Linked DNA regions of Homo sapiens: all the other regions are reported to be linked to region 5. Evidence: microRNA targets listed by miRTarBase, many of them from high-throughput screens and not tested one by one. Region 5 holds a microRNA gene; each other region holds the end of a gene's coding sequence.

Region 1 (5,070 bases), not on the chromosome of region 5:
TAATCCCAGCACTTTAGGAGGCCGAGGCAGGTGGATCACCTGAGGTCAGGAGTTTGAGATCAGCCTGGCCAACATGGCAAAACCCCGTCTTTACTAAAATACAAAAATTAGCCAGGTGTGGTGGTGTGTGCCTGTAATCCCAGCTACTCAGGAGGCTGAAGCACAAGAATTGCTTGAACTCAGGAGGCGGAGGTTGCAGTGAGCCAAGACTGCGCCACTGCACTCCAGCCTGGATGAAGCCTCCCCAAGCCTAATGTTCTTTTCCTGTAACAAAACCCACTGCATGTGCAGGCATCCCTCTGGGCCCTTTGCATCATACCTGTAGGACTTGGGTGTTAAGTGTGAACTGACAGGCTCTTACTGCTTGCTGTGCTGTACTACAGTCCTTTGTCTTTATCCCAGGAGTCTCATGAAATAACAGACCTACTTAATTAGCTTGCAAGAAGGGTACAAATCCCAGACCCTAATAAATGACCTTAAAATTGTGATATATCCAAATCCCCTATTATTTTTCAGTTTTACAATTTAAATATTTTTTATAGTGACAGAATGTCGCTATGTTGCCCAGGCTGGTCTTCCAACTCCAGAGCTCGAGTGATCCTCCTGCTGGGGTCTCAAAATGCCGAGATTAAAGGCGTGAACCATTGCCCCTGGCCCAAATCACCTGTTTTTCTGATAGTAATCTGGCAATTTTATGAGTGTCTAGCATTGTTTTCTATGTGGTCTTCAGAATTGCTAAGATATGAGGCAACCTATAAGCTCTGGGGTTGGCAAATTATGACCTACTTGTTTTTGAAAATAAAATTGTATTGGAACACAGCCACACACTTATCCATTTTCTATGGCTACTTTTGTGTTATAACAGCAGAGGTAAATAGCTGTGACAGTGAACACATGGCCTGGCAGCCTAAAATACTGGCCGTCTATCCCTATAAGAAGTTTGTTGACCCCGTAAGAAGTCATTCCTCATCTAGAGCAATGGATCACATGGCAAAGCACCTTTGAAGGCGAGCCTAGTCTGTTTGAAAGCCAGCCAAGATAAGACTTTTTCTCCAAAGCTGTAAATACATACAGATTTATCAGGAAATATTTTCTACATGGTGCTTCATTCAGGGGTTATCAGTAGGGGCCATGTATGTAAGAGCTATACAGGTAGAGACTATAGGATCTGACTAGAAAGCCCATTTCCAGTACTAGGTGAGTGATTAAAACAAACTGCATCAGAAGAAAGCATCTTGTCAAAATTACTACTTGTGAACTAAAACAAAGGACACATTCCCACTAGAACAGAAATAAATTTTAATTCATTGAAAAGTGCAGCAGTGAACAGGGTCCTTTTGAAGGGCACTTTCTAAGTCAAATGACTGAGATGACACAGAGCAAGGGCAGAATAGGAACAGAGGATGCAAACACAGGAAGTTACAAAATTCAGTGGGAACTAAGTGGTGGTAAAACTCAAGAACCCAACTCTACCCATCTAATTCCATTGGTGGATCAGTTGAATTAACTTTTGCTTTCTTTAGGATGAATCCTGGGACAACTTTCCTTTAAAAAAGCACTAAACCTTAGTTTAGACACTTAATAAGTTTAAGAACACTTCTCACAGAATAAGGTAAAACTTCCATGGCTATCATTACTATTTTGTACAACAGCCCTAGTGTTGTCAATTAAAATGTGTTTGCAGGCCGGGCACGGTGGCTCACACCCGTAATCCCAGCACTTTGGGAGGCCGAGAAAGGTGGATCACCTGAGGTCAGGAGTTAATCAGCCTGGCCAACATGGTGAAACCCCGTCTCTACTAAAATTACAAAAATCAGCCAGGTGGGGTGGCAGGCGCCTGTAATCTCAGCTACTTGGGAGGCTGAGGCAGGAGAACTGCTGGAACCCAGGAGGTGGAAGTTGCAGTGAGCCGAGATCACGCCACTGCACTCCAGCCCGGGTGACAACCGCGAGACTTCATCTCAAAAAAAAAGTGTTTGCAACAGCACCATTTGTCAAATTCAAAGATGCTCAAAAGGTGTTCCCTACTTTGCATGAGAGGGAGAGCTTTGTAACAGGAAATTGTATAAGGCAAACTCTCTATTCATTCCTAAGGCCTCTGTTCATTCCTAATGTTTACATGGTTCTCTACTCTGAAGGGCACCAACATGGACCTCACCTTCTTAACATGGAAAATCAAAATCTAAATGAATACAATTAAAAGGAGGCAGCAAGCTTCTTGCAGTGGGTCCCTTAAACATTATGAAAACATCAGTGCATTGTGTAGTCTGTTACGCTATAAACTGAGGTCTCTTTATGAAAGATTATTTTAGCACAAATTCAGAATGAAGCCAGTCCAAGAAAAAAAGAATTGGAAGCTATTTGAAGGTTAGATAGGAAATATACCAAAAATAGAAGAGCGTAGAGAGGGCTGCACCACATCCTACCACGCAAGCACACCCACTGAACTGAGTAAGAGTGGCGTGGCTGAGGTGCCGTCAGCAGCTGACTATGTCACTCTTATGAGTTCTGCTCAGGAACAAGCATAAAACTGAATAATATGACATCACAGTCCAAGACCTGGTAAGAGTTGGTTTCTTTTTATTTGGAAATAACTATGGTCAACTTTCATTAATGTGGAAGTTGACTGATAATGTTAAGAGTCAAAGTGAAAAAGAAAGCCGATACCCATATTCAACAGTGCTTTCAGTTACAACATTTTTTGAATTTCCTTCTCTAAAACATTCACAGCAGAGGTGTCCATTTCACTTGCCTGTTTCACCTCTAGATACCACCACAGTTGCTGGGGTCATGTGAGGTAAAGGAATATATCCAATTGACTGTTAGCCCAACATGACTATCTGCAATTCTGATAGAAAAGCTACTTTCAGCCATGTCTTACAAAGTGCTTAAAGCTGGACAGAAGACTTTAAATAAAGCTAAAATCGCTTATTGCCTGAGTTGAACAAGTTACAAACCACAGCTCTTCCTCCTCCCCTGCTGTCTCACCACCAATTAGCCTTCTTGTGAGGACAACATTAGAAATGGAACTGGTTTTTGAGCCAAGAAACATAAAAATTTAGGTGTTCTTAGCCAAGCGTGGTGGCTCATGCCTGTAATCCCAGCACTCTGGGAGGCCGAGGTGGGTGGATCACAAGGTCAGGAGTTCAAGACCAGCCTGGCCAACATGGTGAAACTCTGTCTCTACTAAAAATACAAAAAATTAGCTGGGCGTGGTGGTGCGTGCCTATAATCCCAGCTACTCAGGAGGCGGAGGCAGGAGAATCGCTTGAACCCAGGAGGCGAAGGTTGCAGTGAGCTGAGATCATGCCATTGCACTCCAGCCTGGGTGACATAGTGAGACTCTGTCCCCACTTCTCAAAAATAAAAACATTTAGGTGTTCTCAACAGTGAAGAAACCTGAATAGATTTGATTTTGACAGGGGAATACTGATAATCATACAAGACTCCAAAACTCAGGAAGAACCCATCTAAAAGGGGAGAAGGTAGGGTAAAGTAGTTGATACTTTGCATCAACTGTAAGAAAATTTTCCACCTTAAAACAAATGAAGAGAATGACAGAAAAATGCAGATAGAGCCAATGACTTCATACATGGAACTTAAATTCAAGCTCCCTGCTGGACAGGCACTTCTTTCCTTTATCCCTGGTACAGCCCTTCCACTTGTCTGTTCAAGAGCCCTGTCTTCAGAAGGCCCTCGGAAGAGACAACCTTCACCAACTCTTGGCAGTTCTTCACTGCTGATGTTCCTAAGCCACTTCATTTTTCAGATCTCAGAGGGGAGTCTCAAGAGAAGGGACCTTGCCTTAATCCTTCCAGTGTTAACTGGCACTCCCTGTGGTTGGCAGCCACTGGAAAGTAGATGGCTATCACCTTCAAGAGCTACCTGGAATTGGCCTTTATCACAAGCTTACTGCTCTATTTCAGTGCAGCACCAGCCTAGAATTCACAAAAACATGAACAGAGCTTGGGTGACATGTTTTGAATTTGCAACCTTACCACACTGTGATGAACATCATAAAAAATGTATCTCTACTTATCAATCAACAATGGTACTTGTTCTTACTTGGATGATTCAGCTCTGATGGTTACTCTTCAAGCCATGTGATGTTAGTATTTTTGATAGTGAAGTGCTCAATCTGAAATGCTACACAGGTCCTTTGACTTTAGGTCAAGCTTACATATCAAAAGGTGTGTCTGTGTGTTTGTGTGTGTCCTAAAGTACTGCCATTTATCTGAATGGGTTTACAAATTCAGTCTTTAACCACAAGAGGAATAATCAAGAACTGTGGCCCCAGGATAAAAAGAATACAGTGAGAACAAAGACCTCAGGAGTGTCCTTGTCAGCTAAAGGAAGAGACCAGAGACAGCCACTCCTGACACATGGGCAGAGTTCACAGTTTAACACATTGCACGAGGAAGTCAGCTGACTGGGTTGCTTTTTCAAACAGGACTTAAAGCCAGCCCAGAAACTCTTCCAGGTGTGGTCTTGAAGACTAGCTACAGACACCTACTACAATCACTTCATCAGAAAGAGGCGTGCAGGGATCCATCTGCAGAGGCTGTGTGAGGTCGCTACAGAAGATGTTTGGAAAATCTTCGAGTCCTGACACTGCCGCGATTGCTGAACATGAGACGGGGGTCAAACCTGTATCTGGGGAGGAAAAACCAAATGTAACATTAGCTCTCACTAGCTTCTCACTCAGAATATTATTCAGTGGAAAGGATAGCAGGAAGGGGTGTAAAAGAAACAAATCACCAGAAGGGACTCTAGTGAGAAAGTCTATGGTACAAAACATGAGCCCTCGACAGTTCCGAACATTTCTATCACCAGTCAGCACACACAAAGTCACACAGTGCAAGTCAAGAGGAGAAAAACAAGTAGGTTAGTCTTGAAAGGTGTCAGAAGGCAGCAAGATTTGAGATTTTTTTCTTTTGAGGGAGTAGGGGTGGATCAACTGTTACATTATTACAGTGCTTGTGTTCAAGTCACCCTGATTTTATTTAACAATGGCTCCAAACCACAAGAGTAGTGGTGCTGCCAATTCAGAAATGCCAAAGAGAAGCCATA
Region 2 (5,072 bases), not on the chromosome of region 5:
TTCCCCACAATTTTGGAGGCTGAGAAATTCATTTCTCACATTCCAAGATCCAGACCCTGGCAGATCTGGTATCTCCAAGGACACACTTCCTGTTTGCAGATGGCCATTTCTCATTGTATCACATGGTAGATAGAGAGAGAGGACGCATGTGTTCTCATCTTTTTGTAAGGGCACTGATCCCATTCATGAGTGCTCTACCCTCATTCACTAATTACCTCTCAAAGGCTTTACCTCCTAATACCATCACACTGGGGATTAGGATTTCAACATGTGGGTTTTAAGAGGATGCAAACATTTAGTTCATAGCACCTTTCTAGCACTTTTCACAATTTTTGATTATATGTTTGCATGGTACTTACTAGTTTTCTCCCTAGATAAACTGCAAACCCTGCTCTGTGAGGTTAGTGACCATGTCTGCTTTATTTATTAATATACTTAGTGCTTACATAGACTTAGTACATATTTTGCAAATAAATGAAAGAACAAATGTGATACAGAGGATGCCAATGAGTAAATAAAGCCAGTTTATGACTTCCCACAAATACAATGGGCATAATAATTGAGTCTGCAATAGTAGAGTCATGAAAAGTGATTGGGCCATTGAATTTTTAGGAATGCAGAAATAAATTATACAGTTTTGTTTGTAAGTACCAATCAATAAATGTGATCATTTACTAATGGCTTAAAAATTCATACTGTTTTTCTTTCTACTTTTTTTAAATCTAGAATGGCCACATCTGTTGCTCAGTGGATCCACAGTGCCTTCAGGAACTGTGAAGTTAACTGTCTCATGGGAGATTTCTGTTAAAAGAATGTTCTTTCATTAAAAGACCAAAAAGAAGTTAAAACTTAAATTGGGTGATTTGTGGGCAGCTAAATGCAGCTTTGTTAATAGCTGAGTGAACTTTCAATTATGAAATTTGTGGAGCTTGACAAAATCACAAAAGGAAAATTACTGGGGCAAAATTAGACCTCAAGTCTGCCTCTACTGTGTCTCACATCACCATGTAGAAGAATGGGCGTACAGTATATACCGTGACATCCTGAACCCTGGATAGAAAGCCTGAGCCCATTGGATCTGTGAAAGCCTCTAGCTTCACTGGTGCAGAAAATTTTCCTCTAGATCAGAATCTTCAAGAATCAGTTAGGTTCCTCACTGCAAGAAATAAAATGTCAGGCAGTGAATGAATTATATTTTCAGAAGTAAAGCAAAGAAGCTATAACATGTTATGTACAGTACACTCTGAAAAGAAATCTGAAACAAGTTATTGTAATGATAAAAATAATGCACAGGCATGGTTACTTAATATTTTCTAACAGGAAAAGTCATCCCTATTTCCTTGTTTTACTGCACTTAATATTATTTGGTTGAATTTGTTCAGTATAAGCTCGTTCTTGTGCAAAATTAAATAAATATTTCTCTTACCTTATAACACATGTGAGTCTGAGTATCTTGTTTAATATGTTCCTCTTTTCCACAGATGATTCTATAAAAATTGCATTCTAGTTCTGCTGATGATAAACTCCTGCTATGTTATTTCTAAATTGAAAGTTGCTATTTCCAAATTTCCAAATTGAAAATGATATGCCTAAGTAAGGGATGTGATGGATAACTTAGTTCTTCCTCTCTAGATCCTCAATTTCACCCTTTCTACCCTGCTGTGCATCCTGGGGTGGCTGACCTATACAGACCCTAATAGTGGGTTCCTTTTCCTCTTGATTCTTGTCTGGTTTCAATTATACTGCAGCAGGAAACACAGCTGGCATATTAGGAAGAGGTCAAGTTTGGATATTTATTCCGCTGGCTCCCTTCCTGCCTGGCCACCGCCATGATTTGGTGTGTCACCTTACTGAAGGTTATATCTCTTGAAAGGTACTCCTCTCTGTCTCACTGCCTCACCAGGTTCTGATAACTTCTACTGTTTGCATCTTCTGGCTTAGGGATATTAACAGCTCTGGCTATTCTGTCCTTGGGAGGTAACTGTTCAATCTTGTTTTCTCTATTTCTAGGCATATCTTTATAAATGGTCCCTTTGTTATACTCTTTAATTAGCCAGCTTGAGTGTGCCATCTGTTTCCTGCCAGGATTCTAACTGATACACATAAGGAGAGCAGTATGTGAGGTTGAGAATGTCTTCAAGAATTGGTCCTTCACGTTTTGATATAAAATTTTTAAAAATATCAATGTTAAAAGATATTATGATATTAATTACATGTTAAATATTTTGATGCACCAGAATGTCAGAGGGGATAAAAGTAAACATCCTGAAACTCAATAAAGGAAGCCAATCCAATATTGCCCTGTTATGTTTTACACTAGGGTGAAAAGGAAATATAAGTATTGTCAAATTAATTTTCGATGCATAGAGGCATTTTTTAAAAAAAAATTAAAATGAACACAAGGTGACCACCGCAAGCTACAGAAATGATAAAGTGGCTTTTAACTGTTCACTCACTATTGCTATGGAAACAACCTAGCACGAGCTGAGTTGAAAGATAATTCAAAAATGTCTTCATAGTTTGGCATGGTAATATTTATTGAATGTGTAAAATCAAGTAGCTATATTCCCTGAATTTATCATAAATGATTTTTCTGTAGCCTTTTTATGTTTAATTTAATTTAATTCAACAGAGCATAAGGTTTATTTTTTGTCAGCTGTATTACAATGGTAAATAGCAATTTAGCTTCCAAGAAGATATCTGTTAATTTGAAGTTTTTTCAAGTTATTTTTTCCTTATATAGCTTTGTGATTTCATATTGAATCCTCCTGAAAAAGTATACTTTACTCATTTTTATAAGAGAGTAAGAAATGTGTGTAGGAAAGTGTGTGTGTGTGTGTGTGTGTGTGTGTATACACCCATATAGATACATATTTGTCATTTAGATATGTCCTTCTGGAAGGAGAAGCAAGGCTGGAATTTTATATTACAAATCCTTTGGAAATCTTTGTAGGGCTCTGGGCATATTGGTGGCTTGCAGATCCTTGGTTTCTATAGGCCGCTGAGTGAAAGAAAACTCATAGTTAAGAAGAAAAGAAGGAAAATACAAGACTATGATAATTCAACGACTATTAAAGCAACACATGAATTCAGATTGAATTTTTTTTTCTTCAAGGTTTACTCCACAAATAGTAGATTCCCCAGGAGAATTACTGTTTCATGTGCAGGCCCTGGGCAAGCAGTAATCAATTGTTTCTTAAGAACTTTGTTCCTTGAAAAAGGGAAGGTTAATACCCCATTTCTCACTCTGATGATAATTGGCAGAATGCCATGGCTGAGTTGTGCCAATATTAAGGGAAAGTGAGAGCTAAGAAGCATGAATTTATTTTGAGGGTGCTTAGCTCCTTTAAGGGCAGGCCTTGGTGAAAATAGTCTTTACTCCATTTTCTTTATTTCCCCTTTTCTGCAAAAAAAAAAAAAAAAAAAAAAAAAAGAATATTTCGCTATGATTCTTTGGTTTAGTAACCTGTATAGTTTATCTCCCTTTTTAAAAGACTGCCATATTGCTTTTTTTGGTTTGCCTTATATAATGGTAAAAAGAGTCATGCATTTGTTCAATTATACTGCAATATCATGGAACCCTTTCATCCTTCCCATAACTTGGTTATCTATAGCCAAAGTTGAAACACCCTGTAAATTGCCTTTACAAAATGAATGGCATATCAAAGCTCTAAAACAGCAGTCAATACTCTTGAGTGTTGGAGTAGCGGAAGTTATTCAGTTGAATAAAACTGAGGTTACATCTACTGAATAAAATATGAGCTTCAGTTCACTAAGCATGACCTCATCTATCAAAGCTCCACATTGCTGACTAGTTAGGACTTCCTCTGAAGGTCGGCACATCCCACAGATACCTGCATGGTCCCAGTCCTGTTGATGTAGGTAGCTTAAGGATTGACAATACCAACTGTTCTTAAAGAAAGACTTTTTATTTTCCATTTTTTCAAATGTAGAGTGTTGTAGCTCAACAGTAAATTGATCTCTTGAGAGAGTCATGCCAAAAGCATCCCTGAAGACAGTAAGTGGATGCTGTGCTCTGTACCCACTTTGTTCACTGTGGTACCTGGACACTCCCTGTCTGCAGTCACCATTGCAGTGGAGTTGGCTCCTTGTGGTCTTACTGACATTTCATTACTGCACAGTTTTCTACCCTAGAATTCAACATTTTCCATAAAGGAGTTGTCACCTCTTTGCAGAATAATTGCCCTTACTTAATAGACCTGCAGGTAGAAAGTCAGGAATTCCTTGGGCTACAGTAGCTCCGGATTGGTGGTGACATAAGTAGGCAAGGAATAGAACTATTGGAGAAGTTTGGAACAGGATAATCTGAGTTGCAGTTTCTTATATTCTCTCTACTTGCCAGGCTGGGACAACTCCCCCATATCTTTTGTCTTTGTATTTGTATTAAATAATTGTTCACAGAGATTGTTTGCATGACAGAGTCTGAAATTTTTATTTATTCCAAATGATGGATGGCACGCTATGTTACTGCCACCACCAATATATTGCATTTAAAACATGACCTCTTATTTATCTCCAATGTTAGGTGTTTTAGAAAAGCAGCCTGAAATAAGAGTATAATTCTATGTAAAAGCAGAAATGATAGTGAGTTTATTTTTGAGGCTTTTTCTCTTTCTTTCACAAAACCACAGCCATAGAGAAAGAAAAGAAAAATAATGAACAAAGTATGTGCAAAGCATAAGCATTCATTTATTGCTGACTCATAAAGTACATGTCCTAATGGAGGAGAAAGAAAATCAACAAATAAATAGATACCATTTCAGGTGGTGATAAGAGCTAGAAGAAAAGTTAAGCTGGCTTGGGATACTGTTGTGGAGAGGGGTGATCATTTAGGTTGGTTGGACAGGAAGTCCTCTCCACAACAAAATAGTATTGGGGCAAATACTTGGATGAGGTGACAGCATGAGCCATTTTCATACCTGGAGCCATTTTCATACCTGGAGGGAAGGAGTTACAAGCAGAGGGAACAGTGTGCACAGGTCTGAGGTGGAAGCACACCTACATGTCTTGAGTGGAATGAGAACGTGGAAACATGTAGAAGATGCTGTCAG
Region 3 (5,072 bases), not on the chromosome of region 5:
ATCAATGAGAACATGGTCTTGGCCGGAGCAATTTCTGGGCTGGTGGGACCCTTGTCCACAATTGTAGTTTCATATATGTGCATCCTCTGTGCTATCCTTCAGATCCAATCAAGGGAAGTTCAGAGGAAAGCCTTCCGCACCTGCTTCTCCCACCTCTGTGTGATTGGACTCGTTTATGGCACAGCCATTATCATGTATGTTGGACCCAGATATGGGAACCCCAAGGAGCAGAAGAAATATCTCCTGCTGTTTCACAGCCTCTTTAATCCCATGCTCAATCCCCTTATCTGTAGTCTTAGGAACTCAGAAGTGAAGAATACTTTGAAGAGAGTGCTGGGAGTAGAAAGGGCTTTATGAAAAGGATTATGGCATTGTGACTGACAGTGACCTAGGAAGTTACATCATTGAGCGGTTCTTAACCCATCTCTGCACTGGTGGGACCTCTGCCCTCAATGGACATGAGAATTATCTGAGACATTTATTTAAAATGGAGCTATCTCCTGCCCTACCTTTAAATGACTGATTTCAGCAGATGTGGGATGAAATTCTAGAAATTGATCTCTTCAAGTTGTGCTGCAGCCACTCCACACCAGGACAATACCCCTTACAATATCCTCATTAGCTTTTGATCCAGTCCCATACCTCCCATAATGTTTTCCTCAAAACACTGGTCCCTTCAGAGGACTTTAAAAATAAGTTCTATAGTCAAATAAGTTTGAGACTTACTTCACATCAGATGCCTCTGTCTAGGGATCACAATTCATATTAGCATAGTGAATGCTGTAAATATTTCTCTAGGAAAGAATAATTCTATACCAGCTTTAAGCCAGTGTTTTCTAAACTTATGTGAGCACATAAAATTTCCTTTGTAATACTTAGTAACAGTTTCCTGGAACAGGAGATCTTGATATTAATTGACTCATTGTGAATACTTCCTACAGCCCCCTTCTAGGGCAGAATGATTTCTTTTTTCCTTGCAAAGTGAGCCTCTAAAGAGATGTAGTTCTGAGCATTATGCCTCGATCAGTCTGTAAAAATCCGGGTTCTGTTTGGATACAGACCGTGAGGGACCCTGTCTCTACTGTTCAATGGTAGATCATCTAAAGAAAATAAATGCAATCCTGTCCTTCATCATGGATCGGCATTCCTGCTATAGAAGCTTCAGGAGATGACCTCATTCAACCTCACAATCTTCTAAATTTGAGATTTTTAAGAAATATGATTCAGTATACATCTTCCTGTGTTTGCCGCTGAATGAAATCAATCTAATTTTTCTAATTCAGGGTTTTCAAGATAAACCCAGATTTCTCAAGAAAGAAAAATCTAGAAAGATTTCAAAATCCACCACCTACACACTTAAAAGTTGTAGCAGCTTCTTATGCCATGGGAAACATGTCATTTTGAGATGATGTTTTTTCTAGGTTTAAGTTTGGTCTTAAACATTTATATTTAATTTCTCATTGTCTTAGTTCAAAGAATTTACTTTTATATTTTAAAATAACTTTTTACACAATAACTCAGTGTCATATCATGTTAGATATAAAACTATGTCCTAAAACTATTTTATCCTTTTTTTTTTTTTTTTTTTTTGAGACAGTCTTGCTCTATAGCCCAGGCTGGAGTGCAGTGGTGCAATCTCGGCTCACCGCAACCTCTGCCTCCTGGGTTGAAACAATTCTCCTGCCTCAGCCTCCTAAGTAGCTGGGACTACAGGCATGTGCCACCACGCATAGCTAATTTTCAGTAGAGACAGGGTTTGTATTTTTAGTAGAGACAGGGTTTCACCGTGTTGGCCAGGCTGGTCTCAAACTCCTGACCTCAGTTGATTCACCTGCCTCGGCCTCCCAAAGTGCTAGGATTACAGGCATGAGCCATCCTGCCCAGCCTATTTTATACTGCTTATACTATTTATATAGTATAAAAATAGTTTTAAAACTATTTTATGGTATACTTTTTATAAAGTAAAAAGTATACTGTAGTATAATTTTTATACTATATACCATATTATATTTTTATAAAGTTGTTTCCATTTGCTACTAACTTTTTCTTTTGTATGTCAGTTTCCTGATTTCTACATTTCCTGCAGGTCACCTGGAACATCAAAAGAAAAAGAAAAGCTGTAATATTGATGGGTGGCCTACTGTGCAACAAGATTTTCATATAGTGTTTTTGGTGTTATATGGATGTTTCTTCTCGCAGTGGATGTGTAGAGTCAGAGCACAGATGGGCATACTCTCAAACCTTAATAACTGTGCCACATTGCCCTTTGAGTTTATTCTAAACCTTAGCAAGTCAGAGATCACACTGTATGGAACTAACTTCTATCTAAATTGCATGATTGATTGATAGGAGATTTCCAAATAACATTTGGACTGCCTTACATCCAGTAAAAGAACTCAGCAAAATACAAATAAATATGATAATATCTTAGACAGCAAATCTTCTCATCCCACAAGAGGCAGGAAACTGCTAGAGGAAGCTGCCTTGGAGAGGATTCTTTCCTCCCCTCCCGAAAGGAGCTGAACTCAAAATCTCTCCATTTCACAATAGACATTGGAGAACATTTTCAACAGTGGATTTGCACCGGTGTTTTGTGTCCTAGAAAAACGTTCCCTTCAGGTAGGTTCTAATAAGCCCCTTGAACAATTTCCCAAATTGATCATCCTGCCTTCAGAACTTCTGAATCTTCCCTTCAAAACACATACACACGCACACACACACACCCACACACATACCCCTAATCTTATTTAACACTGCTGGAAATAAAAATCTATGTTCTAATGAGAACAAACATCAGACAGAATATGATAAAAGCAAGACTATCCTAGAAACTGTGGCTTCTAAGTTAACCATAATACCTTCCCGGTGATGCACTATATAGTTTCACCATCCCCATGGCTTCATGGGCTCCCTTGGGGCTGAATGGGTCACTACATACCTTTCTAACAGGCTTCCCTGTTTCACACTAGACTAGGGGTCCCCAACCCCTGGGCCATGGACCCACACCTGTCTGTGGCCTGTTAGGAACCAGGCCACACAACAGGAGGTGAGTGGTGGGTCAGTAAGCATTACCACCTGAGCTCCGCCTCCTGTCAGATCAGCAGTGGCATTAGATTCTCATAGGAGGGTGAATCCTATTGTGAACTGCCCATGCAAGGAATATAAGTTGTATGCTCCTTACGAAAATCTAACGCCTGATGACCAATCACTGTCTCCCATCGCCCCCAGATAGGACCATCTAGTTGCAGGAAAACAAGCTCAGGGCTCCCACTGATTCTACAGTATAACGAGTTGTATAATTATTTCATTATCTATTACAGTGTAATAATAACTGAAATAAAGTGCACAATAAACGTCATGCGCTTGAATCATTCTGAAACCACCCCCCCTTCCCGCCCCCACCCTGGAAAAACTGTCTTCTATGAAACCGGTCCCTGGTGCCAAAAGGGTTGGGGACCACTGCGCTAGACCATCCTCGTCCATGTAGCATCTTGAAGGACCTCTCCAAAAGCAAATATCCCTATATTCACCTCAAGCCACCTGTATCTACCAACAGCCTACTTTCTTCAAGATCAAAGTCACACTCCTTAGTCATTTCAGACAAGGTCCTTTGTACACATGATGGCTTCATACACTCAGTGCTCCAGCAATGCAGAACTACTTGCAACTGCAGGAATCTAGTTCTTCCATCTGGAAACCTGCCTCCTTCTCTTTACCCTTCCTTGCCCTAGAGCTACTGCTGGCTTTAAAAAGGTGCTCAGGCCGGCACGGTGGCTCACGCCTGTAATCCCGGCACTGGGAGACCAAGGAGGGCGGATCATGAGGTCAGGAGATTGAGACCATCCTGGCTAACATGGTGAAACCTCGTCTCTACTAGAAATACAAAAAATTAGCTGGGTGTGGTGGTGGGTGCCTGTAGTCCCAGCTACTCAGGAGGCTGAGGCAGGAGAATGGCATGAACCTGGGAGGCGGAGCTTGCAATGAGCCGAGATCGCGCCACTGCACTCCAGCCTGGGCGACAGAGCGAGACTCCATTTCAAAAAAAAAAAAAAAAAAGGTGCTCTGGGTAGATCATTGAGAGAAAAAAAGGTGCCTTTGAAGGACGCGGCCTGGCAGTGTTCAAGGCTTGGCAAGCAGATGGCACTTTTGGCAAAAACAACAACAACAACAACCACAAAAAACGAATCCCCTTCCTCCTGCCAATGCAGCCCCTGTTAAGGCTTGGTGAGCTGAGCAAAGATTCCATTTCCACTCCCACTCACCTTGTTGGCAGGATGCCACTGTACAACCGACAGACTGCACAGGGCAGACCTGCTGTATGGCAACACGTATCCTATCCCATCATAAGTCTTCCAAACCCCGATCAGCAACCACCCCTACCAGGAAGCATTCTCTGATGCTCCTTGACATTCACACCTGGGTCTGTAATTTTTGCTTCCTTGAGCCTTGTACGTGGTTCTAGTGCAATAGTTATCCCATCTGATTATAGCTGTTATCTTCCTACCTGGGCAAAGATCCTTTGGTCAGGTACTTTGTTGGTTATCTCTAGTTCTTAAAAAGGTGCCTGAAATTTATTTGTCAGTTGCTGATCCAAAATTAAAAGCTAACATTCATGTTCTTTTAAAAAAGCACTTAATACTTCTACTATATCAAAACATCAGGTTTCCCCAAATTAGTAAGATCTAACACATTTTAGGTAAAATAAAGATGATGATGATGAAAATGGATTATACAAACTGTTGAAATTTGCTTTAATTGTACAAAGGGGACCTAACCTAATTATCAAATGATGCACATTATTACTAAAAATGATGTACTTTCACTAGAAAATAAGTAGCTGGAGGCTTGTGTTTTAAGAGTTGGAGAGAGTGAACCCAGGATTTAATCAGATTAGATTCTCTTTTTTTTTTGAGACAGAGTCTTGCTCTGTTGCCCAGGCTGGAGTGCAGTGGTGCGATCTTGGCTCACTGCAACCTCCGCCTCCCAGGTTCAAGCAATTATCTTGCCTCAGCCTCCCGAGTAGCTGGGATTACAGGTACACGCCACCATGCCTGGCCAATTTTTGTATTTTT
Region 4 (5,066 bases), not on the chromosome of region 5:
GCCGAGTACAGTGGCTCAATACCTGTAGTCCCAGCATTTTGGGAGACCGAGGTTGGAGGATCACTTGAACACAGGAGTTCAAAACCAGCCTGGGCAACATAGATCCCATCTCTACAAAAAAATTATTTAAAAATTAGTAGGGCGGCTGGGCGTGGTGGCTCACGCCTGTAATCCCAGCACTTTGGGAGGCCAAGGCTGGCGGATCATGAGGTCAGGTGATCGAGATCAACCTGGCTAACACGGTGAAAGCCCATCTCTATTAAAAACACAAAAAAATTAGCCAGGCATGGTGGCAGGCGCCTGTAGTCCCAGCTACTCAGGAGGCTGAGGCAGGAGAATGGCGTGAACCTGGGAGGCGGAGCTTGCAATGAGCCGAGATGGCGCCACTGCACTCCAGCCTGGGCGGCAGAGCAAGACTCCGTCTCAAAGAAAAAATAAAAATAAAAATTAGTAGGGCATGGTGGCGTGCACCTGTGGTCCCAGCTACTTGGGAGGCTGAGGTGAGGCAGGACAATCAGTTGAGCCTAGGAGGTCAAGGCTGCAGTGAGCTGTGGTCTTGCCACTGCACTCTGGCCAAGGCAAGAGCGAGACCTCATCTTGTAAAGAAAAAAAAAAACAAACTTGTGGGGCCCAGTGGCTCACGCCTGTAATCCCAGCACTTTGGGAAGCCAAGGTGGGTGGATCACCTGAGGTCAGGAGTTCGAGACCAGCCTGGGCAACATGGTGAAACCCTGTCTCTACTAAAAATACAAAAAAAAATTTAGCCAGGCAGGGTGGCTCACGCCTGTAATCCCAGAAACTTTGGGAAGCTGAGGCGGGCAGATCACGAGGTCAGGAGATCGAGACCATCCTGGCTAACACGGTGAAACCCCGTCTCTACTAAAAACACAAAAAAATTAGCCGGGCATAGTGGCGGGCGCCTGCAGTCCCAGCTACTCAGGAGGCTGAGGCAGGAGAATGGCATGAACCAGGGAGGCAGAGCTTGCAGTGAGCTGAGATCGCGCCACCGCACTCCAGCCTGGGAGACAGAACGAGACTCCGTCTCAAAAAAAAAAATTTAGCTGGGCATGGTGGCAGACACCTGTAATCCCAGCTAATCAAGAGGCTGAGGCAAGAGAATCGATTGAAACTGGGAGGTGGAGGTTGCGGTAAGCCAAGATCAGGCCATTGCACTCCAGCCTGGGCGACAAGAGGAAGACTCAGTCTCAAAAAAAAAAAAGAAAAACAAAGTACGTCCTCCACCTCTCTGCAGGGCTCCTCAGAGTCCTTTCGCCTTAGACCACTTGGGGGCAGGCAAGCAAGAGACCTGGGTTTGAATCGCTGCTCTGCCATTTAACAGGGGTGTTGGCCGGGCACGGTGGCTCACGCCTGTAATCCCAGCACTTCGGGAGGCCGAGGCGGGCGGATCATGAGGTCAGGGGATCAAGACCATCCTGGCTAACACGGTGAAACCCCATCTCTACTAAAAGTACAAAAAATTAGCCAGGCGTGGTGGCGGGCGCCTGTATTCCCAGCTACTCAGGAGGCTGAGGCAGGAGAATGGCATGAACCCAGGAGGCGAAGCTTGCAGTGAGCCGAGACTGCGCCACTGCACTCCAGCCTGGGAGACAGAGCGAGACTCTGTCTCAAAAAAAAAAAAAAAAAAAAACAGGGGTGTTGGGCAAGTCTCAAAACCTCCCTTCCCCTTCTCTACTAATTGGGGGCCACAGTAGGTACCATCATTGAGTGCGGTCACTGTTGTCCGTCCCCTGAGCACCTCCCAGTTCTGACTTCTGACCTGAGAGATGTTATGCTGGATGCAAACACCCGCATCTCACAGCACAGGATGTAGAGGCCATCGGGGGAGGAGGACTCGCCTGAGATCTCACAAATGCCAACTGGAACCTAAGCTGGGTCCCGGTCTCCCAACCAGTGACACTCTGCCCGAGATGTGGTTCTTGGTCTCTTGTGTGTCAAGACACCCCTGCTCTCCCACCTCAGCCTCAGTTCCCTTCAGCAGGTTCCTTCAGGCCCTGCTGAAACGTCTGCATGACCTCCCACAAGGCAACGTGACAGCTAAAAACCAAACCCTGGCCGGACGTGGGGGCTCACGCCTGTAATCCCAGCACTTTGGGAGGCCGAGGCGGGTGGACCACTTGAGGTCAGGAGTTCCAGACCAGCTTGACCAACATGGTGAAACCCTGTCTCTACTACAAATACAAAAAAGTAGCCGAGCATGGTGGGCACCTGTAATCTGAGCTACTTGGAGGCTGAGGCAGGAGAATCACTTGAGCCCGGGGAGGCAGAGGTTGCAGTGAGCCTAGATGGCGCCACTGCACTCCAGTCTGGGTGACAGAGCGAGACTCTGTCTCAAACAAATGAACCCCAACATAGCTGTTGGTGGCAAGGCCTTTCTCCATGACCAAGGGACGGTGGCCATTCTCTCCAAGTTTCTTCATCTGTAAAATGGGTACAATTCAGTGGCCCTCCCTAACAGGGCTGGCTAGGTACACATGGCCACCAGCCCTACTTGCTGTGTGACCTCGGCCACTAATGTTCACATCCCTCAGGGTCCCCAATGAGTTGGAAGCCCAAAGCGCAGGGTCTTAACAGCAAAGGGCAGAGCAGGCAGGAGAAGCAGGAAGCCTCGGGTCAAAGCTCTGAAAGTGAGGGAGTCCAAGGTCAGACTATCTCTGCACAGTCTCCTTAAAAGGCTGTGTGATGTCAAGCCAGTTGCTCAACCTCTCTGAACCTTAGATTTCCTCAAAGTAGGGAGTAGGATGTTGGGAGGAGGAGGAGAAGCGAACTTCAGGGAGATACTTGGAAAATCCCAGTCCTGGAGGCAGACCTCTTGGGTTAGATCCCACCTGTGCCAACTTCCTCCTGGTACTGGGTCCATCAGCTTGTCCTGGGCCTCAGCATCCCCCGATCCACCAAAAGAGAAAAGCTTACACTGTAAGCCAAGCACTGCTCTGTAAACATAAACTCTCTTAATCGTCACAACTTTATGGGGCAAGTTTTTCGACTGTTCTCCCCATTTTATACGGACAGGCAAACCAAGGACCAAAAGGTTAAAAAGTTTACTAAGTTTCTGTCTCTTCCTTCCTGCTTTGGGCTGGGGCTGTGCCCTTTCCACCTCGAAATCTCTCCTTCCCAAAAGGCAAGGGGGCATTAGCTAGTTCCAAACGCAGATCAAAGACCCCAAGACCCCTCCCCAACCTGGACATCAGCCGGCCCCGCGCCAAGGCGCGTCTAGGGGGCGCTCGCTGCGCGCCAGATGTGCGGGCCGCTCTCAGACACCCGCTCTCTGCTCCCTCCAACAAGGGGAGGAGCTAGGGACAGAGGGAGGAGAGAAAGGCGGGGGTGTAGGGGGGAAGCGAACCAGGCCCCGCCCAGCCCGCCAGGCCCCGGCGGGGGAAGAAGGAGGCGGAGAGCCGAGCTGGCGTAACGAGACTTTACTGAAAACAGAAAACCGGGCGAACCAAGGATTACAAACAGGAATGTGGACTCGTAGCAAAACAAAACAAAACAGAACAAAAAAGGGAGGGGGGACCGGTCGAAAGAACCGAAGGGGGGAGCGAGATCGAGGAAAGGGGCGGAGAATTTTTTTTTCTTCTTCCCATTTCTTTAAAAAACCAACACAAGAAAACACACACACACACAACCAACGTTTGTTCCCGAGTAGAAACATAAATAGGGCAGAATCGAACACTCTGTTCTTCTCTCTTCCAAAGAAAAAAAAAAAAAAGTAAAAGTAAAGGAAAGGCAGGGTTTGAGGCTGCGCCCCCTCGGAGCCCCCTTCCGCGGCGCGGTGTACAAAGGGGCAGCCGAGACGCGCGGGTTTGTGCAACACGGGGCGGCCGCGCGGGGGAAAGAGGCAGCGCGAGGGCGGGGGGGTCATGCGCTCGCCCCCCCGGGAGCAGGGGGTCCAGCTTGTCGAGTCCTGGGCACCCTCGGGGGGGGGGAATCCCCGGGGGCCGCGCCCTCTCTGAGTTCCTGGGCACACTCGGGGAGGGGGGGTCCCCAGGGCCGCACCCTCTCCAAGTCCGGGGCGCCCACGACACCCCCCCGCGAGCCCGCCCCTTGGGGAGGGTGGCCGCGCATGCGCCCCGCGCGCGGACTCAGTACGCGGGCACCTGGTGCTGGGGCAGCAGCTGGCAGCCGCTGTTGACGTGGCTGAGGACTTTCTGCTTGAGCTGCGCCACCTGCTCGCGCAGCAGGCTCGCCGTGGACGCCAGCTCCGTGTTCTGACTCTTGAGGGTCTTCACTTTCTCTTCCAGGCGCGAGATGCGCTCCAGCTTGCGCTTGCGGCACTTGGAGGCGGCGATGCGGTTGCGCAGCCGCTTGCGCTCCGCCTTGATGCGCTCCTGCGTGTCCATGTCGATGGGCGACAACGGCGGGCTCTCGCCGAAGCTCGGCACGTCGGGCACCGTCTGTGGCTCGTCCTTGAGCGCAGCCAGGCGCGGCGGCCCCAACGCGCCTGGGGGTGGCGGCGGCGGGAAGGGCACAGGTTCGGCAGCGAAGGCGACCGTCGCGGCGCCCCCCGCGCCCCCGGCGCCGCCCGCGTAGCTGCTCAGGTTCGCGTAGACAGGCGCTTCGGGCGCGGCCGCCGCCGGGGCCAGCTCGCCGGGGGGCGCGGAGCCCGTGGCCGTGCCCGAGGGCCCCCCGGCGGCGGCGGCGGCGGCGGCAGCGGCCGCGCCCGCGCCGAGCTGGTTCTGCTTGTGTAAATCCTCCAGGGCCTTGACGAAGCCCTCGGCGAACTCCTGCTCCTCGCTGGCCGCCACCTTGGGGTAGAGGAACTGTGAGCTCGTCGGCGTGGTGGTGACCAGCCCGTTGGACTGGATGATGAGGCGCTCGAGCTCGGGGGAGGCCAGCTTCAGCAGCCCCAGGTCGGGAGAGGCGAGCAGGCCGTCGGGGGGTGCCGCGCTGGGGGCGCCGTCGGCGCGCAGGGGGGTAGGAGGCGGCGCGGCCGCAGGCTTGAGCGCTGCCGCCACCTGCTCACTCAGGCTCAGCGTCAGCGCGTCCTTCTTCATCATGCTGCCGGCCGCGGCCGTCGGGGGCGCCCCGGGGAACAAGCGGCCCGGGGA
Region 5 (5,072 bases):
GTCCCCTCTCCTCCATCCCTCTGTCCTCGCTCCTAGGCCTTTGTCATGCTTTGCCTGGACTGGTGGTGGCCTGCACTGTCTCCCTGCCTCCTAGCTTGGTCAGCCCCTCGCCGCCCTCAGAGTGGTCTTTCCAACACCTCCAGGATGTTACTCCTGGCTTATGACCCACCCAGACCTCTCCACCACTGAGAGGCAAGTCCCAAGACCTGAGCCCCATACCCAGGGCCCTTCTGCCCACCTCTGTCCAGCTCGCCCACTGCTCTGCATTTCCCTGCCAAGCTGTCCTGCCCATAGTGTAGCCATTTGGCACTTAGCAGGACTCCCCGGCCATGGCAGGCATCCTCTCTGCCTCTGCCCACGTGTCCTCCTGCCTGGAATGCCTGCTGTCTCTTCCGTGCTCAGTGAACTCTTACCTCCTGGTCCAGCCCAGATGTCACCCCCTCCGTGAGACTTCCTGAGCCTTCTCCAGCCGAAAGGACTATTCCTGCCTCTGTTTCCCCAGAGCATGTTGTTCCTGCATCAGTTACAGCTCAGATTGCACTGGAGTGTATTGAGTTCCTAGGTACTGCCCCTTTACAAGCTTTTTGGACATAGTAAACATGTCTTGACATTCTCGGTCTTTTTCTGGGCTTTGCATGATACCTTTCAGGAGGCATAGCAAGCCCCTGATCAATGGTTTTCTCTGCACAGAGCTGGCATGACAGCTCCTCACCCTGCTAAATGCAAGTTGAGTGAGGAGTGGCTCTAGCAGGCAGAGTGTGCGGGGGACAGGAGTCGAGGGAGAAAGGGTTATTTCACCACCTCCAGGACCTGAGCCCTACGCTGCCAACTAACCTGGGTTCCTGAAGGGTAAATTGCAGGAGCCAGAACCCAGGCTGCTTTCTGGATCAGGCATTTGCCACTGCCTGCTCCTCGGTCCCCATGGTGAGCGCCCCCTCTGCTGCACAGAGCTGGTATGACAGCCCCTCAGCCTGCTAAATGCCTTCTTAGATTGGCTCAGCAGCCCTCTGGGGTGGGCGTCAGCTCTGCGTGTTCCTGGTGAGCCGCACGTTGCTGGGAAGACAGTCTAGGATCAGTTTAGGCTTTCTCTGTATTTGGCCTAAGACTCAGGAACTTCTAGGAAGCAAGGTACACATCTTAGCTCAGCTTCATGGGCTGTGTGTCTCTAATAGGTCGTGCACCTGCCAGTGACCTTGGGTGCCAAGAGGAGGCCACGTCAATCTGGAAAAGCCCCGTTCTTGGCTGTCCACAGTTCTTTTCCCTGCAGCTCACATTTGCTGTTATTAAGAATTGACGGTTTAAGGGAATCACAGTCACTCGCCTCTTGGTTTTTGGCCCAAACTAACCAGCAAGGCCGAACATCATTCCTGGGGAAGGAGCCATCCACCTCCCACACACCGAGTCTCTCTCCTGGTTTTCCAGTGACCAATCTCCAGCTCATGCTAATCTGCCCTTCTGTCTGGAAGGCTCTGATCCTGAATTTAGTCTGAGGCTTGACCATAGATCCTTTGCCATGCACCACCATTCAGAGTTGCTATGAAATGAAGACAGTGCATGGCAAGTACCTGGCCTGCTACAGAGGATCACTAAAATTCTTCTGATCCCCGTCCAGCCCAGAGGGCCGGCTACAGGAGGTGCTAGCTCAGGGGCTTGAGAATCCTTTCCCCCTCAGCCCCTGGGATGGGACCTGGTGAGCCCTCCAAATGTTTCCTGGTCCCTCCTGGGGCCCGGCTCAGTGCTCGCTTTGGGCACAGCGTCAGATGTGAGAAGAGGATGGACAGGAGGCTGTTGGCTGCTCCTGACCCCCGGCCCTCTGCCTTGCAGGGTAAGACCGTGATCCAAGCGGAGATTGACGCTGCAGCGGAACTCATCGACTTCTTCCGGTTCAATGCCAAGTATGCGGTGGAGCTGGAGGGGCAGCAGCCCATCAGCGTGCCCCCGAGCACCAACAGCACGGTGTACCGGGGTCTGGAGGTACCTGCAGGAGGCAGTGGGCGAGCAGGCGGGGCAGCCCAATGCCATGGGCCTGATCTCACCGCTGCCTCCTTCCCCAGGGCTTCGTGGCGGCCATCTCGCCCTTTAACTTCACTGCAATCGGCGGCAACCTGGCGGGGGCACCGGCCCTGATGGTGAGATGTGGGCACAGGTGGGACAGCGGCAGCTGGTTGTCCTCCTGGTCCCAACAGACAGACAGAGGCCACCCTGAGCCCCTTGGGTCTCAGCCTAGTCATGGGGAGAGGCACAGAAGGTGGAGGCAGCTTGGGGCTGTGGGTAGGCTTTGGGACCAGAGACCCAGTTTGAATCCCAGCGTCGTGCCTCTCTGCCTGGGAGACCCTGGCAATCCCTGAACTTCTCTGAGGCACAGTTTCCTCATCTGCAAAGTGGAAATAATAGGAAAGCCTCCATGACTGGGTTGTGAGGCTCAAATGAGACACATCCAGCAGCAGGCAGGGCTGGCCCGGAGCTGGCTGAGTGTTGGTGGCTCTGTTGATGATCATTACCGCTGACCTTCAGTGCTCACCACGTGCCTGCTGCTGTCAAGCACGGCATGGAGATGATCTCATTTCATCCTCTCAGCAGCTTCGAGAGGGAGTTGTGACTCTGCCTCTTTGCCAGATGACAAAACTGAGACACACAGCCGTGACTTACTTGGCAAGACTGAGTGACTAGTAAATAAATGATGGAGCAGAGAAAGATTTGGATGTAGTCTCTCTCGGGGTTGATGGTATTCAAGTCACTCCTCTGCCATTATCGGAGTGAGGTTGGCTATTACTGGATGAAGTCCCAGGCCTGTGGGGGAGGTGCAGCCCAGCTCCCAGACAGCCTGGGTGGGAGAGGTCCACATAGTTGTCGGGAACCCCGAGCCCCAGACAGGGGCACTGGATGCTGATGCCGGAGTGTGTACTAGGGACATGGATGGGGACGTCCTCATGCATCTGTGCACAGACAAACACGGTGCATGGCCAGGCGCCCACGTGCCTGGCTGCTGCACATGCCTGACCCAGGACATGTGCTGAGAGAGCCCGTGTGTACTTGCCCCGCCGCGCCCGGTGAGCACTCAGTGACTCTAGCAGTAAGAACAGACCTGCCTAGGTGATGGCAGGACCGGTTGGTGCAGGCTTCTGGGGAAAGGGAGCCTTGGCCAGAGCGTGGGGCAGATTGGGCTGTGCCGTGGCCTCCTTGGCAGGGACTTTTGGAGATAGGGCCAGACGCCTTGGAGGAGTGGGGTCGGGTAGGGGATGTCCTGGTTGGCACAGAGTCTGGTGGTTCCAGGTGAGGGACAACCATGCTGTAGGGTAGGGTGGGGTGGGGGTTGGGGGCTGGTGGCGCCATCCTCATGCATCACTGAAACACCTCCCGGGCAGGGCAACGTGGTCCTATGGAAGCCCAGTGACACTGCCATGCTGGCCAGCTATGCTGTCTACCGCATCCTTCGGGAGGCTGGCCTGCCCCCCAACATCATCCAGTTTGTGCCAGCTGATGGGCCCCTATTTGGGGACACTGTCACCAGCTCAGAGCACCTCTGTGGCATCAACTTCACAGGCAGTGTGCCGTAAGTCCCTGGGGATGGTGTAGGCTGTGGTGGCTAGGGGACGTTCACCTGCTCACCTGCTGTCTGCCTGGGGATGGGGCTGTGAACCCAGGGGTCATGCACGGACTCTACTCCCTTACTTGCTGTGTGGCTATGAGTGAGCCACTTCACCTCTCTGAGCTTCCATTTCTTCACCTGTACAGGGAGTGATTATCCTTAATTTGCAGAGTCATTGCAAGGATTAAACATGTTAATGAACAGGAAAGAGCTTCGCAGACTGGAAGTGCACCCTACAGCTGTGGGTAATATTGATTTCAGTGCTACCTCTGCTACTGGAAAGGGCACAGGGGAGCACAGAATGAACTGGAGGAGTCAGGAAGCCTTCCTGGAGGAGGTGACATCTAAGCAGAGGAGTTGGCCAGGCAGAGGGGAAGAGGCAGGAGAAGAATATATATGTTGGGAGAGGGAATAGCACATACAATGTTGCCAAGCCAAAAACTTGTGCTCTGGGGCATGGCAGGATCCTGTGTGGCTGGAGTGTGGAGTTTGGGGGCGACAGGGCAAGAGAGTGAGGGCAGGGCATGGTTTGAGTTGAGGTAGGGGAGGCAGGCCACTACCTGATCTCGACCATCCATGCACTCACTGGCTGAGCAGGAAATTTGGAGCTCACACTAAGGCTCAGTGGTGAGCACACACCAGGGACAAGGTCCCGGCTCTCAGGCTGGAGGTGGCGGCAGGGAGTGGTTCAGTGACCATAAGATACTTAGGAGTCTGCAAAGGTGTCTGGCCTTTATCCTGAAGGTGATGGGAGCCATGGAAGGCTTCAAGCAGGGAGAGTGGCTGAGTCAGAGTTCTGTGTCAGGCAGAGATTGCAAATAATGGCCCCCAAATTGGATCTGGCAAGAGGCTCTACTTTCTTTGACTCCTAACAGTGATGGCCCAACTTTGTATAATTGGGACAATTTCATAGATAAATCCAAATATTGGCCTGTCTTGGTCCCCTGGACCTGGATGCTCTGATCTTGCATTTCCTGGTGGTACCACTGGCTGGAAGTGGGTGGGTGCCCTCTGGCTCCCTGCATACCTGATCCACGCTGTTTCCTTTCCCTGCTGGCTCCTCTGGGCCCCTGTGTTGGCACCCTCATTCTCAGTGATCTCTCTGTGACCTGATGCAGGAGACTGGCCAGGGACTGTTGACCTCCAGGGAGGGGTGGTAGGGGCTTGAACCAGGGGAGAGATGGGGGATGTGGAGAAGGGGGCAGGTTCAGGTGAGAAGGATGCAGGGAGGCACAGTGGCCATTGCCTGTCCTGGAGTTGGGGTTGGGGTGCGTGTGGGGATGAGGGGGGTTGTCAGCGAGAATGTTCAAGATGGGCACCTGGGAGGGCGAGCGGGCTCGGGGGAAGATGAATCTCCTGTTGGTCACTTCGGGTGTTATCTGGGTGGAGATGCCTGGAGGCAGCCAGACGCCCGGGTCTGCAGCTCAGGGTCCTTCTTACCTCCTCTTCCAGGCCCCAGGCTCTGCCACCCCCTTCCCCGCAG
Region 6 (5,072 bases), not on the chromosome of region 5:
CTGGAGTGCAGTGGAGTGATCTCGGCTCACTGCAACCTCCACCTCCCAGGTTCAAGCAATTCTTCTGCCTCAGCCTCCCAAGTAGCTGGGACTATAGGCACATGCCACCAGCCCGGCTAACTTTTTGTATTTTTATAGAGATGGGGTTTCACTGTGTTAGCCAGGATGGTCTCGATCTCCTGACCTCGTGATCCGCATGCCTCAGGCTCCCAAAGTGCTGGGATTACAGGTGTGAGCCACTGCGCCTGGCCTCTTTATAACAGCAAACCATAGCCTTTCCGTAGACTCCTTTTGACATGTTGCTGAATTTGTGTCCTATTGATTTTGAGTAGTTCAAGTTCCTACCCTTTTTGTTTCTACTTCTTTAGGAGCATTCCGGAAGAGTTTTTCGACTACAGTTTGATGAATTCCAGATTGTCAGTAGTTCACATGATGACACAATCCTCATCTGGGACTTCCTAAATGATCCAGCTGCCCAAGCTGAACCCCCCCGTTCCCCTTCTCGAACATACACCTACATCTCCAGATAAATAACCATACACTGACCTCATACTTGCCCAGGTATCGAAATCGATTATGTACATAACACTGTGGGTAGGAGACGGGATATTAGCTGTAAGGTGTTGCTAGTTCATGGAACTTTCTCCTGCCGTTTGGGTCACCAACTCCTGTAAAGCCGAGGAAGCAGACAATGTGAGACAGGGCTGAAGCTGCCACAGTGTGGACAGTGCCTTTCACCAAGGTAGCCAGCCTCAGTTCTAGATGATTCTAGGGTCCTACTTGTGTGGTAAGCCTAGTCATTCCTGCCCTAGTTATCTAGTAGTACTGTTATGAAAATAAAATGAGATTTGAATCAGTTTGAAAACTAAGTACTGTAATGACCCAAAGGCCTGTGATGTTTAAGTTCCCAGATCAAACAATACCTACAATAGAGACCTTTCAAGCCAAGTAAACAGTCTGATGTCTAATGTGTGAATGGAAACATCTCTTGGTGAAAGTTCACACTGACATATAAATAAAAGGGCAGATTTTAAAAGGAATATAAAAAGTAGCTTTTATATCCCTATCCCTATTCCTCAACCCTCCAAAAAGAGGACCTGTCTTTTGACCTCTGACCTCCACATGTCCTCCCACTCAAGTCTCCAACCTCTCTCTCAGGCAGGGGAAGATCCTAAAATACCCAGGTGGTCCATACATATTGTGGTATATTCAGATCATACCTGCTGTTCTAACCAGTTCGAATACACTAGGTTGTTACCAGTTTGAGAAGGCTGCCCTAGCTGCTGAGGAGCGTTGCTGTCAGGATTTGCCACGTGTGCCTCAGTTCTCGTGGCGGAAGTACATGTTCGCTACACGTTTCTGCATCTCTCTTTGCAGTGTTCCGCTGAGGACAGTGATTCACGCCCAGCTGGGCTGTCCTCAGCTTCTCTTTCTCTCACAGAGGACACGGTTCGTCGTTCCTCAGCCAGGTCGCACAGGCTGTGTGCCCTTAGACAAGTAACTTCCCAGACCCTGAATCTCTTGATGAGTAACGTGAGGGGCAGCACTCACCTCACGGAACCCTGTGAAGGCTGTGTGGAGATACTGCATGGAAAATTCCTAGTGCTTAGCACAGTGGCGAATACATAATATGCCCTCAGGAAAAACTGGTCATGAGTATTAATATTGCAATCTCCATATACCTACCCCCTCCTTTGCCCAAAATTTTCTCTTCCTTAGACTTCCGTGTTACTTTGCCATTTTTAATATTCTTCCTGACTCTCTGATTATTTGTGCTTCTTTCCCCCTCACTCCCAAGAGTCTGTTTCTGGCTTTTCTTATTATTTTTATTTTATTTTATTTTATTTCATTTTATTTTATTTTATTTTATTTCTTGAAACAGGGCTTCACTCCTGTCACCCAAGCTGGAGTGCAGTGGCACAATGTCAGCTCATTGCAACCTCCACCTCCTGGGCTCAAGTGATTCTCCTGCCTCAGCCTCCTGAGTACCGCGGGCACACAACACCATGACCAGCTAATTGTTTGTATTTTTTTTTTTTTTTTGGAGAGATGGAGTTTCACCATGTTGCCCAGGCTGGTCTCGAACTCCTGAGCTCAAGTGATCCACCTCCCTTGGCCTCCCAAAGTTACTGGGATTACAGGTGTGAGCCACCGCACCCGGCCTGTCTCTGGCTTTTCTTCCTTATCTGAGTTCCTTCTTAGGCTGCCTTCTCTATTCCCAAGGCTTCAGATCTCATCTCATTGTAGAAGACTCAAATTTCTGTCTCCAGTCCAAGCCTCTGCCTTAATCTCCAGGCCACATTTCCAGCTGCCATCCACACAGCTGTCCTTGAAGATAGCAAGAGCACTTCTAGTGCTCACATCCTCAACTGCACTGTCCCCTCCTTTACACTGCTGGTACCCTGCAGCCACACAGCCAGGCCAGCTTTCCTTGATTCCCCCACTTCTGTTACTGGCACCGCCATGCTCATGGCCACTCAAAAGGCAGGGCCCACAGACCATCCCCCACCCCTGCCCTGCCATTCTACAGGGCAAGTGAAAGCTATGCCAACCGTGGGCACTCTCAGCCTCAAGACATCAGAGTCACTCTGCTTGAACACCACAGCCCTGAGCATGTCAGCAAGCCCTGCCTTTAGTATAACTTCCCCCATCAGGCCAGGTCACCTTTGACAGAAGCTCCTGCATGGCATAGGCAGAGAGCAGGCATTAGGAAGGACCCCTAAGCCTTTTCCCCATTGGCAGCTAAGTGAATGTTCTTTTGTCTTCAAGCAAGTAAGAAATATCAAAAAAGGGGCTAATGACTATTTGCTCTGTTTTCACACAGGACCCATTAAAGTTGCGGTATTTAACGTATCTGCCAATACCAGGATGAGCAACAACAGTAACAATCAAACTACTGCCCAGTTTCCCTGGACTAGCCGAGGAGCAGGGCTTTGAGACTCCTGTTGGGACACAGTTGGTCTGCAGTCGGCCCAGGACGGTCTACTCAGCACAACTGACTGCTTCAGTGCTGCTATCAGAAGATGTCTTCTATCTTTTGTGAATGATTGGAACTTTTAAACCTCCCCTCCTCTCCTCCTTTCACCTCTGCACCTAGTTTTTTCCCATTGGTTCCAGACAAAGGTGACTTATAAATATATTTAGTGTTTTGCCAGAATCTCTCTTGCTTTGCCATTAAGCAGAAGAACTAGTTTCCCTGTATAGCCTGCTGGGAGAGACCCACTTCTAGGGTATGGGGGATGCAGCTTCAAGCCCAGTGCCCAGTGTCTCCCTGTTAACTGCAGGAATGCCAAGCACCTGGCCAGAGCAGCCCAGCCCCAATATGCTTAGGAGGAGACAGAGTTCCCTCTGTATAGCCTCTGGGACAAGAAAAAGAAAACACAAGAATGTATACACTGGAAGATTTGGGCCTCCTGCCTGCCTTCTCTTTGTTTCTGTTCCTCTTCCCATCTACTCCCCTACGCCCCTTCAACCTTTTTTCTCTGTCTGCTTCACCTGAGAAGAAAGTGTACGAAGAGAGTGTCCTCCTCTCACATGAGCCAGATCAGCCAGAAAATGCAACACTTGGAAGAGTTAAATGCTGTTCAGTGAAGATTTCAGCCCCAGGCCTTTGCTGCAAGTGACCCTGTGGCAACAGTGGATTCTCAGACATGATACTCTCATCATATTTGCAACTCTTCTCTCTCTTTCTTCCCCACACCCAAGAGGAGGATTGGTGGTAGGGGGCAGGCAGAGGGGGTGGGGAGAAGTTTCCTGGGCTCCATCAATGGCTGCATCTTTTCTGGACTCAGCAGTCTCCTTGATTCCATGTAGAGTGTGGAAAGGAGTTGCTGATTGCATTTCCTCTCATTAACAATTGGGTGTGTAATAAAAAGCATTGTACTTCATCTTAAATCACTGGTAAGGCTCAGCCTACAGAAAGATTTGAAATGGCCAGAGCCAATCGCTTGGTGCATTCTGCGTAATGGTTTCCATCTCCGATTTCCTCATCAGGGCCTGTGAATACCCAGGTGCCTGTATCTTTGCCAAGACCGTGATCAAGGTAGCTTAAGAGAGATGGTCAGGAGAAAACACTGTTTTTGTTTTTTTTGTTGTTTTGTTTTGTTTTGGCCAGTTAAATATCATCTCTCAAATATTGATCTCACCGTGTCAACCTTGCACTGCACAACCTTCCTTCTGCTTCTCCCACACCCAGTATTTGCAGAAGGGCAAAGCTGCTTAAGAGAGAGGATCAGGGTGAAGTTTGGCACACAGGGTTTATTAATGGGGCAAAAACTGCCTTTTCTTCCTCCTCCTGACCTTATTTTGCTCTTCACTCTCCCCAGCCAATAAAGCGTCTGTGGCGATTGGTGAACAGCATAAACAGCTGGACCTCAGCAAGGGTCAGGCAAACCCAGTCACTCGGAAGGCAGCTGTGTGAGCTGCCAAGCTAGTGGGCTTCAGGTGCAAGGGTACCTGTGCCACACCAACCTGGGAGCACACAGAATACTATTAATGTGCACCCAGCTGGTCTCCCCAGGCAAGAAGGTATCCTCTTCCCAAGGTGTACCCACTGAATGTTGTTACTACATATTGAGAGTCATTTTATGCATATGCATTCTACCTTTCCTGCTTTATGAGTATTTTTAAGCTTTTAGTTCAAGGTTATATTCAGAAAATATTTCCCAGTATAATGATACATCGTAGCCTAAGAAATATTTTCTCAATGTAATTCCCTTCCCAGCTACCCAAATGCTACAGAGAAATGTTTTCTACTTGGCCACTATCAGGGTTCGTCATCTATTGTGTTGACTATTAATGGCTTTTTGATTGGGTAAGGATTTTGCTATAGATGAAGGTAGAGGGCTGTCAGCCCTGAAAAACACACAGGTCAGACATTTAAAAGGCATGGGTTTCGAGCTGTCTCAAAATATTGCCCAATAGCCATAATTTTACCAGCCTTTCTGTCATATGCTGCTATTACAAAGTGGAAGCTGTTGAATGTTTATTGGTGCCCAGGGTTTTGCTCTCCAATCTAGGTTCAGTTGAAGGAATATTGTTTCTAAGACTGTTTTGAGACATGTCCAGTACAT

The links. Region 5 holds the annotated microRNA hsa-miR-4695-5p (CAGGAGGCAGUGGGCGAGCAGG, at 1,982-2,003, shown strand). A microRNA usually pairs through its seed, bases 2 to 8, with sites in the 3' UTR of a target mRNA and lowers its output. Matches are read on the target gene's strand: a 7mer-m8 pairs with bases 2 to 8, a 7mer-A1 pairs with bases 2 to 7 and ends in A, and an 8mer does both.
Region 1: the mRNA of GNS is a reported target of hsa-miR-4695-5p. Seed matches in the 3' UTR shown: 7mer-m8 at 3,277-3,283, 7mer-m8 at 3,245-3,251 and 7mer-m8 at 2,202-2,208.
Region 2: miRTarBase lists NELL2 as a target of hsa-miR-4695-5p. The part of its 3' UTR that is shown has no 7-base or 8-base seed match.
Region 3: the mRNA of OR2A4 is a reported target of hsa-miR-4695-5p. The part of its 3' UTR that is shown has no 7-base or 8-base seed match.
Region 4: miRTarBase lists JUND as a target of hsa-miR-4695-5p. Seed matches in the 3' UTR shown: 7mer-m8 at 3,401-3,407.
Region 6: miRTarBase lists BTRC as a target of hsa-miR-4695-5p. Seed matches in the 3' UTR shown: 7mer-m8 at 3,409-3,415.

The regions. Positions count from the first base shown.
Region 1 is chr12:64,712,167-64,717,236 of GRCh38, forward strand. GNS (glucosamine (N-acetyl)-6-sulfatase) reads right to left here. Exons shown (of 14, transcript NM_002076.4): 14 at 1,283-4,653. The coding sequence ends at 4,575. Among named protein-coding and RNA genes, the nearest start is that of GNS, 45 kb to the right of the region's middle.
Region 2 is chr12:44,504,639-44,509,710 of GRCh38, reverse strand. NELL2 (neural EGFL like 2) reads left to right here. Exons shown (of 20, transcript NM_001145108.2): 20 at 727-1,433. The coding sequence ends at 777. Among named protein-coding and RNA genes, the nearest start is that of NELL2, 370 kb to the left of the region's middle.
Region 3 is chr6:131,695,754-131,700,825 of GRCh38, reverse strand. OR2A4 (olfactory receptor family 2 subfamily A member 4) reads left to right here. Exons shown (of 1, transcript NM_030908.2): 1 at 1-1,182. The coding sequence ends at 357. All of the region lies in intron 15 of ENPP3 (ectonucleotide pyrophosphatase/phosphodiesterase 3), which reads right to left. Among named protein-coding and RNA genes, the nearest start is that of OR2A4, 3.1 kb to the left of the region's middle. RefSeq lists an enhancer at 1-325.
Region 4 is chr19:18,276,341-18,281,406 of GRCh38, forward strand. It overlaps JUND (JunD proto-oncogene, AP-1 transcription factor subunit), which reads right to left. Exons shown (of 1, transcript NM_005354.6): 1 at 3,354-5,066. The coding sequence ends at 4,101. Among named protein-coding and RNA genes, the nearest start is that of JUND, 2.7 kb to the right of the region's middle. RefSeq lists enhancers at 2,561-2,640, 2,981-3,190, 4,416-5,066 and silencers at 3,241-3,440, 3,871-4,180, 4,761-5,066.
Region 5 is chr1:18,880,181-18,885,252 of GRCh38, reverse strand. It overlaps MIR4695 (microRNA 4695), which reads left to right and starts at 1,978; the gene lies at 1,978-2,051. ALDH4A1 (aldehyde dehydrogenase 4 family member A1) reads left to right here. Exons shown (of 15, transcript NM_003748.4): 6 at 1,825-1,974; 7 at 2,055-2,129; 8 at 3,366-3,553. RefSeq lists a silencer at 893-1,124.
Region 6 is chr10:101,550,331-101,555,402 of GRCh38, forward strand. It overlaps BTRC (beta-transducin repeat containing E3 ubiquitin protein ligase), which reads left to right. Exons shown (of 15, transcript NM_033637.4): 14 at 369-561; 15 at 2,825-5,072. The coding sequence ends at 530. Among named protein-coding and RNA genes, the nearest start is that of POLL, 35 kb to the right of the region's middle.